Linked DNA regions of Homo sapiens. The protein of the gene in region 1 purifies or fractionates together with the protein of each later gene. This does not show direct contact. Each region holds a gene or a part of one and is shown in the gene's direction. Other genes may lie near its edges.

Region 1 (4,626 bases):
ACCCAGAACTACAACTGCAATGCATGTTAGATAGAAGAGGTATATGCCATGTGTCATAATTAGAGAGAAGAAATGCTAAATTCATGAATAGGGATTCACAGAAAGTTTTAACAGAAAGGGCCTTTGAAGTGACTGACTGTGAACTTATTTGACAAGATGAAAATAATCCATCGCAAGGCTACATGATGGATGCTCGGCTTAGTATCTGGGTGTGCTGCAACCCCACCTAACATTTTTTTCTATTATGCCATGTTACCATATTCCCATATTGAGTTACATTTTCAAATACATGACTTTTCCAGTGAATAATTGAGAGAACTCCTTTTCTGAAAAAATTCCCACATGGAATGGATAAATGAACACTTGCACCAAAGAAGATGCCAACATCAGACTGCAAATCTCCAAGACAGACAAGACAAAAAGTTCTGAAGTGAAAAGTCATCTTTGTTCACACTGTGGATTATTCAGGTTTCTTGCTTTCCCCCTGACACACATTTTTTTAAAATTGACTTTATTTTTTTAGAGCAATTTTAGATTCATGGCAAATTTGAGTGAAAGATACAGAGATTTCCCATGTACTCCCTGCCCCTCGCATACATAGCCTCTCCCATTATCAAAATCCCCCACCAGAGTGGTTCGTCTGTTACAATTGAATGTACGTTGACACATCATTCCCCAAAGTCCATGGCTTACACTGATGTTTCACATTCTGCCACTTTGGGCAAATTTATAAGTACACAGATCCACTATTATGGTATCATACAGAGTAGTTCCACTGTCCTAAGAATCTTCCGTGATCATCTATTCATTCCTCCTTTCCCCCTAACTCGGGCAACCACTGGTCTTTTTAACTGTCTCCATAGTTTTGCCTTCTCAAGAATGTCATAGTTGGTAGCATACAGTATGTAGTCCTTTCCAGTTGGCTTCTGTCACTTAGTGATACACACTTAAGGTTCCTTCATGTCTTTTCATGGCTGGACAGCTCATTTCTTTTTAGCACTGAATAATATTCCATTGTCTAGATGTACCACTGACATCTGCTTTAAATCTTTTGCCCATTTCATTTTTACCCTCTAACCATTTCATTACTAAAACACAAAACAAACTCCGGAAAGGAGTTTGTTGATGAGAAAACACTGAAAGTACGATTTAAATTGAGGAATGGAGATTTTCTGTGGATAATTGTCTATGTTCCACTTTACCAAAGAAAAATGAATTTCAAGTAGTGCATAAAGTAATTCTCGTTAAAAAATGTGGGAATAAAGAGATCAGTCCTGGGTACTGGGAATATATTTATCTCACAGAAAAATCTTGCCCACAAAATGCATCAGACTGAGATGAAATACTCTAGGGTATATTAAATTTTATTCTAATATTGAAGGGAGGGAAAAAAAGGACGGAAAGAAAAATGAAACAGGATGAAAAATAAGGTGATTGGGAGAGAGAAAAGACAGAGAAACTTGTTAACGACAGGACTTTCTGAGCAAGATATTTTTCTTCCTTTTACAAGTTGGAAGCTATTGAATAATTCATGCCAAGCGTGGAAAGGCTGTCTTTTCCCTGGATGATGTATAACTAAGCAGGAGAGAGCTTCGAGTGGGTTCACCACATCAGCCACCACTCCTGCTTCTGAGCACAGGGTGCTCTCCTCTTGAGCTCAGCTTCTGCTTTTGCAGCCAAGCATTCTTGCTGCTGCTGCCTGCCTGCCCACCCGCCTGGGCTTGCAGCCCGCCACTTTACTTTCTCCAGCCCTGATACCAGCTGAGAAGTCTCCCTGCAGCTGCTAGTTCCTGCCCAGGACCATGTGTGTGGATGCTGCTTGGGAGAAGCGGGCACTTGCTCCTGGCACTGATCCCAGCTGAGTTTCTCCTGTTGATTTCTGGACCACTGATGCTGTTGCTGAGGAGGTATTTCCCGGCATCCCTCCCCCTGAGACACCGGCTAAGGACCAGCCTAAACGCAAGGTAACCTTCACCTCTTTCCCATGGGATTTTCCCCAGCTGGGATATCTCTGCTTTCTCCTGGAACTAGGTCCTCCAGCTGGCAACATATCTCTCTCTCTCTCTCTCTCTCTCTCTCTCTCTCTCTCTCTGTGTGTGTGTGTGTGTGTTGGGGGAGAAGAGGAGACTGTTTTAGGTATTGCTCTGTCCTAGGGCTTCCCCGATACCTGCTGAATCCAATGCAAAGTGGCCTTTCCCCTGGCTCTGGAGACATTTCCGAGGCAGGCACCTGTCATCTGCCACCCCCGTCCTCCTCCTCGAGCTCCCTTTCTCCCCCTCCCCCAGCCCATTATTCTGCTTCAGCCTTTTGTGTCAGTGGCAGAGGGCTGAAGGGATGTCTTTGCCCTTCTGGCAGGCAGGACAGTGTCAGGATGGACCGCGCTGCCAGAAGCCGACGCTAGCGAGGGAGGTGTGAAGAGTTGGCCAGAATGACCAACTCCTCCTCCACATCCACCTCCTCCACCACCGGTGGCTCGCTGCTGCTGCTCTGCGAGGAAGAGGAGTCGTGGGCGGGCCGGCGCATCCCGGTGTCACTCCTGTATTCGGGCCTGGCCATCGGGGGCACGCTGGCCAACGGCATGGTCATCTATCTCGTGTCGTCCTTCCGAAAGCTGCAGACCACCAGCAACGCCTTCATCGTGAACGGCTGCGCCGCCGACCTCAGCGTCTGCGCCCTCTGGATGCCGCAGGAGGCGGTGCTCGGGCTCCTGCCCACCGGCTCTGCGGAGCCCCCCGCAGACTGGGACGGCGCTGGGGGCAGCTACCGCCTGCTACGGGGTGGGCTGCTGGGCCTCGGACTCACGGTGTCCCTCCTCTCCCACTGCCTCGTGGCCCTGAACCGCTACCTGCTCATCACCCGGGCGCCCGCCACCTACCAGGCGCTGTACCAGAGGCGCCACACGGCGGGCATGCTGGCGCTGTCCTGGGCGCTCGCCCTGGGCCTCGTGCTGCTGCTCCCGCCCTGGGCACCGCGGCCCGGCGCCGCGCCACCGCGAGTCCACTACCCGGCGCTGCTGGCCGCCGCGGCGCTGCTGGCGCAGACAGCTCTGCTGCTGCACTGCTACCTGGGCATCGTGCGCCGCGTGCGTGTCAGCGTCAAGCGGGTCAGCGTGCTCAACTTCCACCTGCTGCACCAGTTGCCCGGCTGCGCCGCCGCCGCCGCCGCCTTCCCGGGCGCCCAGCACGCGCCGGGCCCCGGTGGCGCCGCGCACCCGGCGCAGGCCCAGCCCCTGCCGCCCGCGCTGCACCCGCGGCGGGCACAGCGGCGTCTCAGCGGCCTGTCGGTGCTGCTGCTCTGCTGCGTCTTCCTGCTGGCCACGCAGCCACTGGTGTGGGTGAGCCTGGCCAGCGGCTTCTCGCTGCCGGTGCCCTGGGGAGTGCAGGCGGCCAGCTGGCTCCTGTGCTGCGCCCTGTCCGCGCTCAATCCGCTGCTCTACACGTGGAGGAACGAGGAGTTCCGCCGCTCCGTGCGCTCAGTCCTGCCGGGCGTCGGCGACGCGGCGGCCGCTGCCGTTGCCGCCACAGCCGTGCCCGCAGTGTCCCAGGCGCAACTGGGCACCCGCGCCGCGGGCCAGCACTGGTAACCTAGCCGGGGCCCGAGGGAAGCGGAGATCCCCGGCTTCCGACGTCCTTGGGCACCGTCGCCTCCTTCCCTCCTAGGGCATCCCCTGCCTGAACGAAGACTTCCGCCGCGAAGCCCGATAGATCGGGGGAAAATGGGGCCTTCGACCCCAGCGGGCTACCTGAACCAAGGCGTCTCTTTAAGTGGGGCGCCCGAAGTCATTTTGGACGGCCACCTGATTTTTACCCTTTGTTTCTGTGTTTTAGAGGAATCCTAAAGTCAAAACACCAGAGACTTGAAGAACTTGCAAACTGGCGTTTTAAAATAACCGGTTAATTTATTTCCACACAGTTTGTTTTTGAAAAAGAGCTTTCATAATGTATAACCCTTTCCACTTTCATCGTCTTATATATGAAGCGCCTTGAGTGTGCATGAACCAAAGGAAATAACATTGAAGAAGGAAAACAATATGTAGAAAGTATTTTAGAAAGTAACCTGTCTTTGATGATGCTTCTCTTACCATTTAGTTTTTGTATATTACCCTGGGGCAGTGAAGCCCTAGGTGTGCCCACCAGTATGAGTTGCCATTAAGACCTCAAGCCCTTTATTCTTAAAAGGGTTTTTAATAAAGTCTTTCTCAAATGAGGTAGAATCTTAGCCAGTGAGAAAAAAAATTATTTTATGCTCCTTTTTTTTCGCACTCTTAAGACTGAAAATTGGCGTTGAGTGTTATAGTGAAAATTTTCCAGTTTGATAATTGATGGTCAGAGCCAGCACTGGAATTTTGAAAACAAATAAGGTGATTATCTATTTTAGGTACCGTTTCACATTTTCTATAGCATGCACACTTGTTGCTACCCTCATTTTGTAACCAATTTATTTGCCTTATGAATGTGATTGCAGCTTTGAACATTCTGTACTATAATGGTTGCTAAGAAGAATAAGTCCTTCTGTTTTCTCTTTAACATTTAAAATATCTCAATGCACATGATATAATTAAACACTAATAATACCATGACTGCATAGCTAATATTAGCTGCTATTGCATGCTCCTAGATGCTAGAA
Region 2 (3,752 bases), on another chromosome or scaffold:
ATTATTCTTAGATGTAATAGTATGTGGTATGCTTTAGAAATTAAGTATATAAACTTTTCTTTTCTTTTTTTTTTGAGACGGAGTTTTGCTCTTGTTGCCCAGGACGGAGTACAGTGGCGCAATCTTGGCTCACCGCAACCTCCGCCTCCTGGGTTCAAGCAGTTCTCCTGCCTCAGCCTCCTGAGTAGCTGGGATTACAGGCATGCACCACCATGCCCAGCTGATTTTGTATTTTTAATAGAGACGGAGTTACTCTATGTTGTTCAGGCTGGTCTCAAACTCCCGACCTCAGTTGATCTGCCCGCCTCGGCCTCTCAAAACTGCTGGGATTACAGGCATGAGCCACAACGCCCAGCCATATATAAACTTTTCAAAGCACTGTGCCTTCAAAGATGTGATAATTTTCAGAATTTTGAAATTTTAACAATATTAAGAGAATACACTGTGAGGGCAGTGTGCATGACTTGGTACTAGTTATGCTGGATAGCTCTGCTAGGTTGTTTTCTGTGTCTGTTATTGGAATGAAAGCAATGGCATAAGGGCATAGAGATGCCAATTTGGATTTGTCCCCAAGTATCTCTTTGCTGTCATGAGCAGTGGGAAATAAGAATTTCAAGTGGAAAAGAGTGAAGAAGTGAAACCATTTTGAATTAGGCCATTTCCCAAAAGAATCTTCCTTTTTTTTTAAAAAAAAAAAAAAAAAAAAAGTTTTTTTGAGATGGAGTTTTGCTCTGTTGCCCAGGCTGGAGTGCAGTGGTGTGATCTCAGCTCACTGCAACCTTTGCCTCCCAGGTTCAAATGATTCTCCTGCCTCAGCCTCCCGAGTAGCTGGGACTACAAGCGTGCCCCACCACGCCCAGCTAATTTTTGTATTTTTATGGGTTTCACCATATTGGCCAGGCTGGTCTTGAACTCCTGACCCCATGATCCGCCCACCTCGGCCTTCCAAAGTGCTGGGATTTATGGGCGTGAGCCACCGTGCCCGGCCCAAGAATCTTGCTTTCTTATTGAGTTTAAGATACATTAGTAAATGTGGGAATTGTGGTGATCGGTTTTTGGAGTGTCTTATTGGTAATAAGTTGCTTTATGCTTTAGCATAAAGTAAAATGTCAGAATTTATAAGGTCAGTGGATAGTAACTGTTTGAAAAATGACTAATGTGCATATTTTAAGTGTTTGTTGTGGGGGATGAGGAGGAGGGAACAGAGTTAGTATTTCCTAGCAAAAGCATAAAATTTCTTCAGTATTTGACTAAAATACATCTGGTGGGTAGCATTGTGTTCAATAAAATAATTATTTTGTCTGTAGTTACACTTCAGTCACTAATTTTCTTAAGTAGGAAAATGTTTTTAAAAACTGTTTTGAGCAGAAGTATTATACAAAGTTTAATGTGAAGATTTATTTTTCTAGCTTCCAGAAATGTTGCATGGTGATGGTGACAATGAAGAACATGGCTTTTGTCCTGTGGGGCAATTCATCCTTCAGAATTTAGGATTGCTCTTTGGATTTGCCATTATGCTGGTGATTGCCCTCTATGAAGATAAAATTGTGTTTGACATCCAGTTTTGACCTTTCCCAGTAATCACTGTTGATTACGAGAATGTTACCATGCAGCTTTGCATCTGTTCCTTGTACTGTATGCACATTGCTCAAAGGAAAGTCAGTGGCTTGCACTACTTACAAGTTTCATAGATTTGAGCCTAACCACAAGAGGCTGGTGCTTAGTACTGTTTTCCCTGCACGTAGGGGTCTTTTAAAAATATAAAGCTTGTGATAAAGAGAGGAGAATATGGGACTCCATGAACCAGTGTTGATATGTTTGATTAAGACTTTTCACAAAATAATCATATAAAACACTAGTCTCTTTATTAGTAGAAACTTCTGTGGCTATGCAGAAATAGAGATCGAACCAAAAAAAATCATTTAAACTTTAAAAATATTTTAAATGGACTTTGGGGAGACATTTTTTGTGTGTTTTAAGAATGAATTGTAGTGCTCTTTAATTCAGCTACATATATTCATGTGGTGATAGGGATCAACTTGACACAACTTTGAAACTGCATAAAGTAGACATAGGAACTAGAGGAAAGCTCAGGCTGCATTAGAGTATGAATTTAGCATTGGGAAAAGCCCTTATTCTTGAATCTAGAGTTACTATTTTTGTATATATTTGCATAGTGTTTAAACCTGCAGCCTAAACTACTGAAATTTGTGATTGTATGTTTGTGTGAGCTTCAGTTTAATGAAAGATTCATAATGGTTCTTTGTATTATTATAATACTTGGTGTTGGGGTGTTCTTTCTGTTTTGTTTTTTACTTTAATTTTGTTTTGATTTTTTTTTTTTTTTTTTGGCGGGGGTAGGTGAGGGTTTGGAGCATGTGGTCTTTTTAAAAAATTGTAACCCTCTAGAAAATATCAAAGAAATGAACCAGACGTGGTTTAAATAGTTGATTTTCCTATTTTAACAGTACCAACTAGTTAATTGGGAAATGTAAGTTCTGAATGTTCACATTGCTTTACCAGTTTGGCACTGGAACCAAGAGCACATGTCGTGGCTGGCTACAAGGTTGTAAAGCAGAAAATCGAAGTTTACCATGTCTGTAATGTGTACATGAAGTGTCAATTTAGAACAGTTACTAGGATAAACTCCATTATTGCCATGGCTGTCATGGTACCCAAGTGACTTGGAAGATGCATTTAAATTACTCAGCTGAAATCACTTGATCATCTTGTGCCAAGATATGCTGTTGGTGCCTGATAGGGATTAGTCTTTTAGGTGCCCTGTTCTCCTACCATAATTGTGAATGATTTGTGAGAAGTGCAAGCCATGTTTATCCTGAATTTTTACTTAATAATTTGTATTACTAGTCATATGCATGTAGCTTTCTGTTTACATCCTATGCCACATGGTCTTCATTTATGCCAGGTAAACTGTATTTGAACTATGTGCAGCTAGCTTTGTTTTAATCTGCTTGGCAACCAGTGTAGCTGCTGTAACAATCTATCTTATTGTTCAAATATATAAGAGCCAAACTCTTTTCCATTCCATCTAAAATGTTTTCATTTAGTACTCTTCTTTCCTCCTACTCTATGAACTTCAAAACAAAAACAAAACTTTGAGAGCAGCACATGCATCCAGGTATTTATAGATTATTGCCAGTGTCTTTTCTGTATGCTATAAGCAAGGGAGCTTAGGTGTTATTTCTTTAATTTATGCTTGAATCTGAAAAATTATTTCTGACTTACTCCATGGCCTCCTTATAATAAGTAGAAGTTTTATATATAATTAATTTTCAGCATTGGGCACTGAATTAGGACAGTCCTCATCTCATTGCTTGGCCCTTCAAGCAACCTAGCTAAAAGGTGCTGATATTTTATTTAGTACTGCCAACTTCAAGTGATTTAGATATCTATCTATCTAGATTTCTGAACCAAGATATATTTATAGTTCACTTTTGGGTTTTTATACCCACGGTAGGATTCTGCATTCCAGCATTAAATCTGCTTCATTTTAGAACCTTTATAAAAGCAATAGCTGGAATATACTCCCAGTTTTAAAATAAATGCCTGATTGATTTAAAGCAAGTAGGTTATGCTGAAGTATATAAAGAAGTTTTATATTCTCTCAAAAATGGTATTATCTTTCTTTATTTGCTAGATTCTTACAAATCTTTTAAGAGGGCTGTAACAGTTGCTGCTAGTATTAGGGTTCCACATCATTCTAATGTATAGTTTCAAGTCTTAATAGACAA
Region 3 (3,752 bases), on another chromosome or scaffold:
GGTGGAAACCAATTAAGTGTTATTCAACCAGGTGCAGCAGCTCACGCCTGTAATCCCAGCACTTTGGGAGGCTGAGGTGGGCAGATCACCTGAGGTCAGGAGTTTCAGACCAGCCTGGCCAACGTGGTGAAACCCTGTCTCTACTAAAAATACAAGAAAAATTAGCCAGGCATGGTGGTGGGCATCTGTAATCCCAGCTATTCAGGAGGCTGAGGCAGGAGAATCGCTTCAACCCAGGACACGGAGGTTGTAGTGAGCCGAGGCCATTGCACTCCACCTGAGCGGCAAGAGTGAGACTCTGTCTTCAAAAAAAAAAAAAAAAGGAAAAAAAAGAGTGTTATTCAAAAACCTCTTTAGGCCAGGCGCGGTGGCTCACACCTGTAATCCCAGCACTTTGGGAGGCTGAGGCAGGCAGATCACTTGAGGTCAGGAGTTCAAGACCACTCTGGCCAACATGGCGAAACCCCATCTCTACTAAAAATAAAAAAATTACCCAGTCATGGTGGCAGGCACCTGTAATCCCAGCTACTCGGGAGGCTGAGGCAGGAGAATTGCTTGAACCCAGGAGGCGGAGGTTGCGGTGAGCCGAGATCGGCGCCACTGCACTCCAGCCTGGGCGACAAGAGCGAAACTCCGTCTCAAAAAAAAAAACCAAAAAACAAAAAAAAAACTTTGATTAAAATGGGTAGTTCTCCAAAAAGGAATTCTGTGAGTTCAAGCTCTTTTTTTTAACACAAGTGTCTTTTTTGTTTTGATTTTCTCTTTTCTTTTTTTTTTAATATAAGATTCTGCCTTAGATTAACTTTGAAAATTACCTCCTCCTGATTGATTAGACTGTGTTAGGGACGTTATTTAGGCCACTCATTTATCTACTTCCCTCACCTGTCTCTCCCCATCTTTCCTTCTGTTGTTATTGTGTTTTTTAACATGAGGGTTTTGGGGGAAGCTAAAGAGAAGACTGCAAGATGAGTGTTTTCACAGGGCGAAGCCCCTGTGGTTGGCTGCTGGAAGGTTTCTCAAGGGCTTTTTATATCCAACAGACTGAAGGTCCAGAATTAAGTCCAGGAGTAATTGAACTTCAAGATAAGTTACAAAATGAGATAGAAAGGTGCATCTAATAGTTATCTGGGAAAGGTGTTAAACAAAGCCATGATTAATGGTAGTTAATAAGTTATGAAGGTACCAAAGAATTCTTATGAAGTAAGTTTTTTGAAATGTGTTCTGTGTCATCATTAAGCTAAGACTACTTGGCAGATGTCTTACAGTCTGGACTACGTAACCTTGACCAAGATTCCTCATCACCCTAGATTGCAGCATTGTGTCTTCAGGGATGAATAAACCACTTGAAAGTGAAAACAACATCATACCATGATAGGAGGCCAGGTGCAGTGGCTCACACCTGTAATCCCACCACTTTGGGAGGCTGAGACAGGAGAATCACTTGAGGCCAGGAGTGTGAGACCAGCCTGGGCAACAAAGTGAGACCCCCATCTCTATAAAAATAAATTTTTAAATTAGCCAGGCATGGTGGCATGCACTTGTAGTCCCAGCTACTTGGGAGGCTGAGGCAGGAAGATTGCTTAAACCCAGGAGTTCAAGGTTACAGTGAGCTGTGATCATGCCACTGCACTCCAGCCTGCACAGCAGAGTGAGACCCTGTCTCTAAAATAAAATGACAGGAGACATCACATTAGCCTAAAGGTTAACTTCTGGACACCTTGGCTGCTAAGTCAAAAAGTCCAGAAAGCCACCCTTGCTTTTCACTACTTTCAGAATAAACAGACCTCCGCTTCCTTTGTAGCTTAGTGGGTGATTGGATTCTAAACTGGCCACTCTATAAGAGAAGACAATTTGAACTAAAGCTGTTGCTAATAAATGGTTATATCTACTGCAATGAAGAGGAAACAAAAACATGGAGTCTGTTGAAAAGTGGCTTGATTCCCTCAGTCAACTAATTGATAAGTATTTGTTAAGCATTAACAATGGTTCTGGGTGCCATGAGCTATACTACAGAAATATAAATCTAATAAAAATATATCCTCTGCCTTATAAGTAGATTAAGACCAGTTAGAGAGAGGAAGCTTAAGGTAAGTTAAATAATAGTGACCAATGCAGGGTACTATCTAATTCATTACAAAATTATGTGGAATTTTTTTTTGTTTTTTGACGGAGTCTCACTCTGTCCCCCAGGCTGGAGTGCAGTGGCGTGATCTTCTACCTCACTGAGTTCAACTCAGTGAACTCACTGCAACCTCCGCCTCCTGAGTTCAAGCGATTCTCCTGCCTCAGCCTCCTGAGTAGTCAGGATTACAGGCATGCGCCACCACGCCTGGCTAATTTTTGTATTTTTAGTAGAGACAAGGTTTCACCATGTTGGTCAGGCTGATCTCGAACTCCTGACCTTGTGATCCGCCCGCCTCGGCCTCCCAAAGTGCTGGGATTACAGGTGTGAGCCACTATCTGGAATTTTTTAAGCACTAATTGGCTGGAGAATGTACTTTAGGAGTTTGGAAAGAACAAGAGGAGAATTAAGGCAATGCCATGCAAAGGGACACCCTTAAACAGGTATGGAAGGCAAGTAGACATGGCGCATTCGAGGGACTGGGTAGAGAGAGAAGCTGGGTGGGACCAGTGGTTCTGTCCTGGTGAGTAGTGGGAGTGCTGTTGGCCCTGCGAGGCCAGGTCATCGAAACTGGGCACAGCTGTTTAGGCCGTCCACTAAACCTTCACCATCCAGTACAGCAGCCAGTAGCCATGTATAAATACAGCCATTTAGTTACATGTGGCTGTTGAATGCATGAAGTGTGTCTCTTTCCAACTGATGTGCTATAAGTGCAAAATACACATTGTATTTCAAGACCAGTGCGAAAAAGAATGTAAAATTCCTCACTAATCACTTTAACTAATCACATGATGATGTGAAATTATTTTGGATATATTGGGTTAAATGAAATATGTTATTAAAATTAACTTGTTTTTACTTTTTAAAATGTGACTACTAGAAAACTTTGAATTACCGACGGGACTCACGTTACATTTCTCTTCAACAGTATTACGCTAGATTAAAATAAGTTGTCATGAGTTGTTGAACAAGGGGAAGGAACTGACAAGAAGTGATACCCGAACCTAGAAATGCCTCTGGGAGAGGCAGAGCAGAGTTGCTTCCCTGGATACATTGGCACCTTGTCAACAATTTCTTTTAAGGCAACACATTGACATGGCAGGAGTTCATGATTTAAAAAAAAATTTTTTTTAAAAAGAGAGCTGTGTGAAAGAAAGCAAGGCTGTTAAGGCTGTGAGTCACATAGAGGATTTAGCCATTGGGTGGTACCTTTCCTTTTATATAAACACCCACCAACAGTGCAGACCCTCTCCAGCCCCTCCCCCTCCCCACCCTCACTGCCATACACTGCCGTGCTTCTTCCCACTAGTGTGGCCGTCTGAATCTTCTCTTTAGCATCACTGACAAGTGGTGGCTTAACATCTGTGTGAATGCCTCCAATGATGAGGAACTCGGTACCTCACGAGGAAGTGTGTCCCATTCACTCAGTATTGTTACCAAAAATACTTTCTTCCCGTCCTTTCCTCCCTGACAATGCTTAAAAAGAGGGTTAGAGTTCCTGGATCCTTGATTCCAGGTAACAAGAGGGGCTTATCATTGTTTTTTAAAAACAAAAAGAGGCCGGGTGCAGTGGCTAACACCTGTAATCCCAGCACTTTGGGAGGCTGAGGAGGGTGATGTCACCTGAGGT
Region 4 (3,121 bases), on another chromosome or scaffold:
TTTCCTTACCTCAGAAATGAAATATTATTCTTATAATACCTTTTTGTGGTTGCATGAACTAATGAGTGAATGGACAATGATGAATAAATGTGAAGCTGTATTCTTAATACCCACTGCAGAAGTGTCATTAAAATAATATACAGTGGAACCAGAAAGAGGGTTCTGTAAGAATTAGCCATAGCAGAACAAAATTATAGAATTTTAAATACCTCTACCCAAGTAGAGGTATTTTTATTCAGACACCTACTTTTTATTTATAAAAAAATGCATTTTCTATTATCAAGTTCACTTATGAAATAAAAATTATAACACATATTTTCCATTTAGCGTGCCTAACATCCTACCTTGCCTTCTATGAGTCTTTCTTCTAATACTACACCTCTGCCTTATTTTAGTTCAGGGTTTCACTAAGTAACCCCTACATTAATAAATGAGTATGGATAATGCTAATATTTGAGCAATACAGAGGATTAAGAGATCAAGATACTTCACTGCCTATTAGCCTAATAGGGATACCTACTTTCTTTCAAATGCCAAAAATTCACATTAGAAACATAATCCAGATATGTGTTATTTTATATATATATATACAAAACAGTAAATGGTTTCTTAAAATTATTGCTATTTTTCAACCCCCTTAAACTGGAGAAAAACATTTAATTAGTAAAACATTAATTAATTTACTTTAATTTTTCCCATCTCTCAGTAGTGGCGGGGAGGAACACAACAGTTTTCAATCTATGTCTGCATAGTTGTGTAGAGCTGCAGAATTTTAGTTGGATTTTTAATTTGGATGATCCCTGACAGCCCCAAACTAGTCAGGCTAATAAGTATTTGAGGCAAAATGGCTTTAATCTAACAATTTACTGAGTTTACCTGAAGTTGGCTAAATAACACTGTATGTTTAACTTCTACCTCTACATAAGTTGAATGCTGATAAAAGGAACTAGTAGATAACTATGTATATTGATAAGCACTGTTAAGAAAATGCAAAAATATTTCTAAACACTTTTCCAAATGTTTTCTACTTTAAGTTAGAAATAGTTTCAAATCTGAGAATAAACACTATATAATCTGCACTTTATAGGTTGGGTGCAGTGTCTCATGCCTGTAATCCCAGCACTTTGGAAGGCCAAGGCAGGAGGATTGCTTGAGGCCAGGAATTCAAGACCAGCCTGGGAAACAAAGTGAGACCCTGTCTTTACAAAAAATAAAAACAAAAATTTAAAACTGTATAATCTGCACTTTATGCTAAACTAGCTGTGCTCTTAAACTCAATTTTTTCAGCTCTAATAAAGGGCTTAATTTGATAGAATTATTCTACGATTAAATTTTGAAGACTGTTTTCACTCTCCTCTGCCGCCCATAGCAAGACTGCTTCCATAGATTTCTCAGAACCGTAGCCAGTTCTGGCTATTTGGTCAAGTCTGGGATCCCTCTTACCTGCTATTCTGCAGCTGCTTTCTCTGTCTTACATTTTTTGGGCCACGTCTAATCTTAAAGAGTAAACTCTACCCTTGGTTTGCATAGTGTGCATGACAAAAATAACAAGAATAATGGTAATGATGAAAATGATAAGAGCAAAATTTGTGGAGTGCTTTCCACATTCCAGGTAATGTGTAACATACAATTTAATTCTTACAGCAGTCTTATGGAGTGAAAATACTATTATGATTCCCGTTTTACAGATGAAAGAATGGAGGCACAGAAAAGTTACTTGTCTAAGTAACAGTCTATCCTTAAAGTCCACAGTCTTAACCACTTGATTTTTCATAGTGAGGAAAATATCCCAGAAAGTTGCAGTTTCAATTAATCACTAATTGTAGGGTAATTTAACTATACCAGTGAGTCCTACTAGCAGAAATATTTGGGCAACATAAGCCCACTGACTGGAGCTTTTGTCTTAGCATAATAACCTGTTTCCAGCAAGAATATAACAGAAAAAAGTTTCCCAGCTTTCAAAGGTTTATAATATTGATTAAAATTTAGATAAACTTAACCTTACACAAATGACTCTTACTTTCCTTTTTATTGAGAGCATTTTCTTTGGAGCATTTTCTTCTTTGGAGGATTATACCTTGCTCATCTTGGCACAAAAGAAGGCGAAAGGAAGTAACATGGGATTGGGAAAAGAGCAAGGAGATAAAGTTTGAGGAAAAAAAATCACCATGTTGATGTCTTCTTGAGTAGGCCAAGTTGCGTATAAAGAGAAAATGACAACAGGAGATTTTAAGGTATGATATATTGTTAAGAGTAGTACATATTTAAGAAGAGAAAATATGTTTTTGAAAACAAATTTAAACTTGAAAGGATGATTTTCATATTTTGAAGGGATTTATAACTTCACAAAGCATCTCCATTCTATCTTGTTCAGCTTTACATTTAAAAATAAACTCTTCTTGTTCATATAAACCTTATCTCTTACATAAAGTGAAATCTGTTAATTTTTTGTTTTGACAAGGATAAACTACTTACCTGCATCTGTTTAAGAATAGATTAACTTATTTTGAGAAGAAATTCTGGGCACCATTTTTGACCATTGAAGACTTATTTGTAATTTAATTTCTACTTTACATTGTGAATGTTCATTTTCTAATAAACAAGATTATTTTGCATATGTACCTTAAGCTTTAAAACTTTATTCAGTCGTCTTTCAGTACATATTTAAGGGGGTACCCACTATGTGCCAATTACAATGTCATTTGGGGGATTGTGCGGTAAACAAAACACACAGAGCTCCGACCTTCATGAGGCTTATGTACCAGCAAGAAAGTCAGATATTCACAAGATGATTTCACAGATGATTATGATTGAGGGAGGGGTGATGAGAGAGAAGCATAGGGAGCTATGAGGGTGAATATGATTAACAGGGAACCTGACCTGAACAGGAGAGTCAGGCATGTTTCTCCAGAAGAAATGATTAGCCAAGACCTAGTGGAAGAGAAAATTTGGATTGGTGAAGAGTGGGACAAGTACTTTTCAGGCAGAAGGCAGTGTGTACAAAGCCCTGGAGGTGGGAAGATCTTGGAGCTTTCACAGAACTAAAAATAGGTCCAAGTTGGGTGGAGTATAGTGGTTGAGAAGAAGCCTAATTTTAGCTGAGTCTATAAAGGGACAATGC

Evidence for each region. The genes of interacting proteins can lie anywhere in the genome.
Region 2: the proteins of GPR88 (region 1) and SLC39A10 purify together in Homo sapiens (affinity purification with mass spectrometry; one large-scale study listed by BioGRID and IntAct). This does not show direct contact.
Region 3: the proteins of GPR88 (region 1) and CNNM1 purify together in Homo sapiens (affinity purification with mass spectrometry; one large-scale study listed by BioGRID and IntAct). This does not show direct contact.
Region 4: the proteins of GPR88 (region 1) and MFSD8 purify together in Homo sapiens (affinity purification with mass spectrometry; one large-scale study listed by BioGRID and IntAct). This does not show direct contact.

The regions. Positions count from the first base shown.
Region 1 is NC_000001.11:100,536,539-100,541,164, forward strand, and holds the start of GPR88 (G protein-coupled receptor 88), read left to right. Parts: upstream 1-1,600; 5' UTR 1,601-1,964; intron 1,965-2,355; 5' UTR 2,356-2,428; coding exon 2,429-3,583; 3' UTR 3,584-4,626. UniProt on the Homo sapiens protein: Orphan G protein-coupled receptor implicated in a large repertoire of behavioral responses that engage motor activities, spatial learning, and emotional processing. May play a role in the regulation of cognitive and motor function.
Region 2 is NC_000002.12:195,733,474-195,737,225, forward strand, and holds part of SLC39A10 (zinc transporter ZIP10 precursor), read left to right. Parts: intron 1-1,409; coding exon 1,410-1,568; 3' UTR 1,569-3,752. UniProt on the Homo sapiens protein: Zinc-influx transporter. When associated with SLC39A6, the heterodimer formed by SLC39A10 and SLC39A6 mediates cellular zinc uptake to trigger cells to undergo epithelial-to-mesenchymal transition (EMT).
Region 3 is NC_000010.11:99,381,104-99,384,855, forward strand, and holds part of CNNM1 (metal transporter CNNM1), read left to right. Parts: intron 1-3,752. UniProt on the Homo sapiens protein: Probable metal transporter.
Region 4 is NC_000004.12:127,917,305-127,920,425, reverse strand, and holds the end of MFSD8 (major facilitator superfamily domain-containing protein 8), read left to right. Parts: 3' UTR 1-2,621; downstream 2,622-3,121. UniProt on the Homo sapiens protein: Outward-rectifying chloride channel involved in endolysosomal chloride homeostasis, membrane fusion and function. Conducts chloride currents up to hundreds of picoamperes.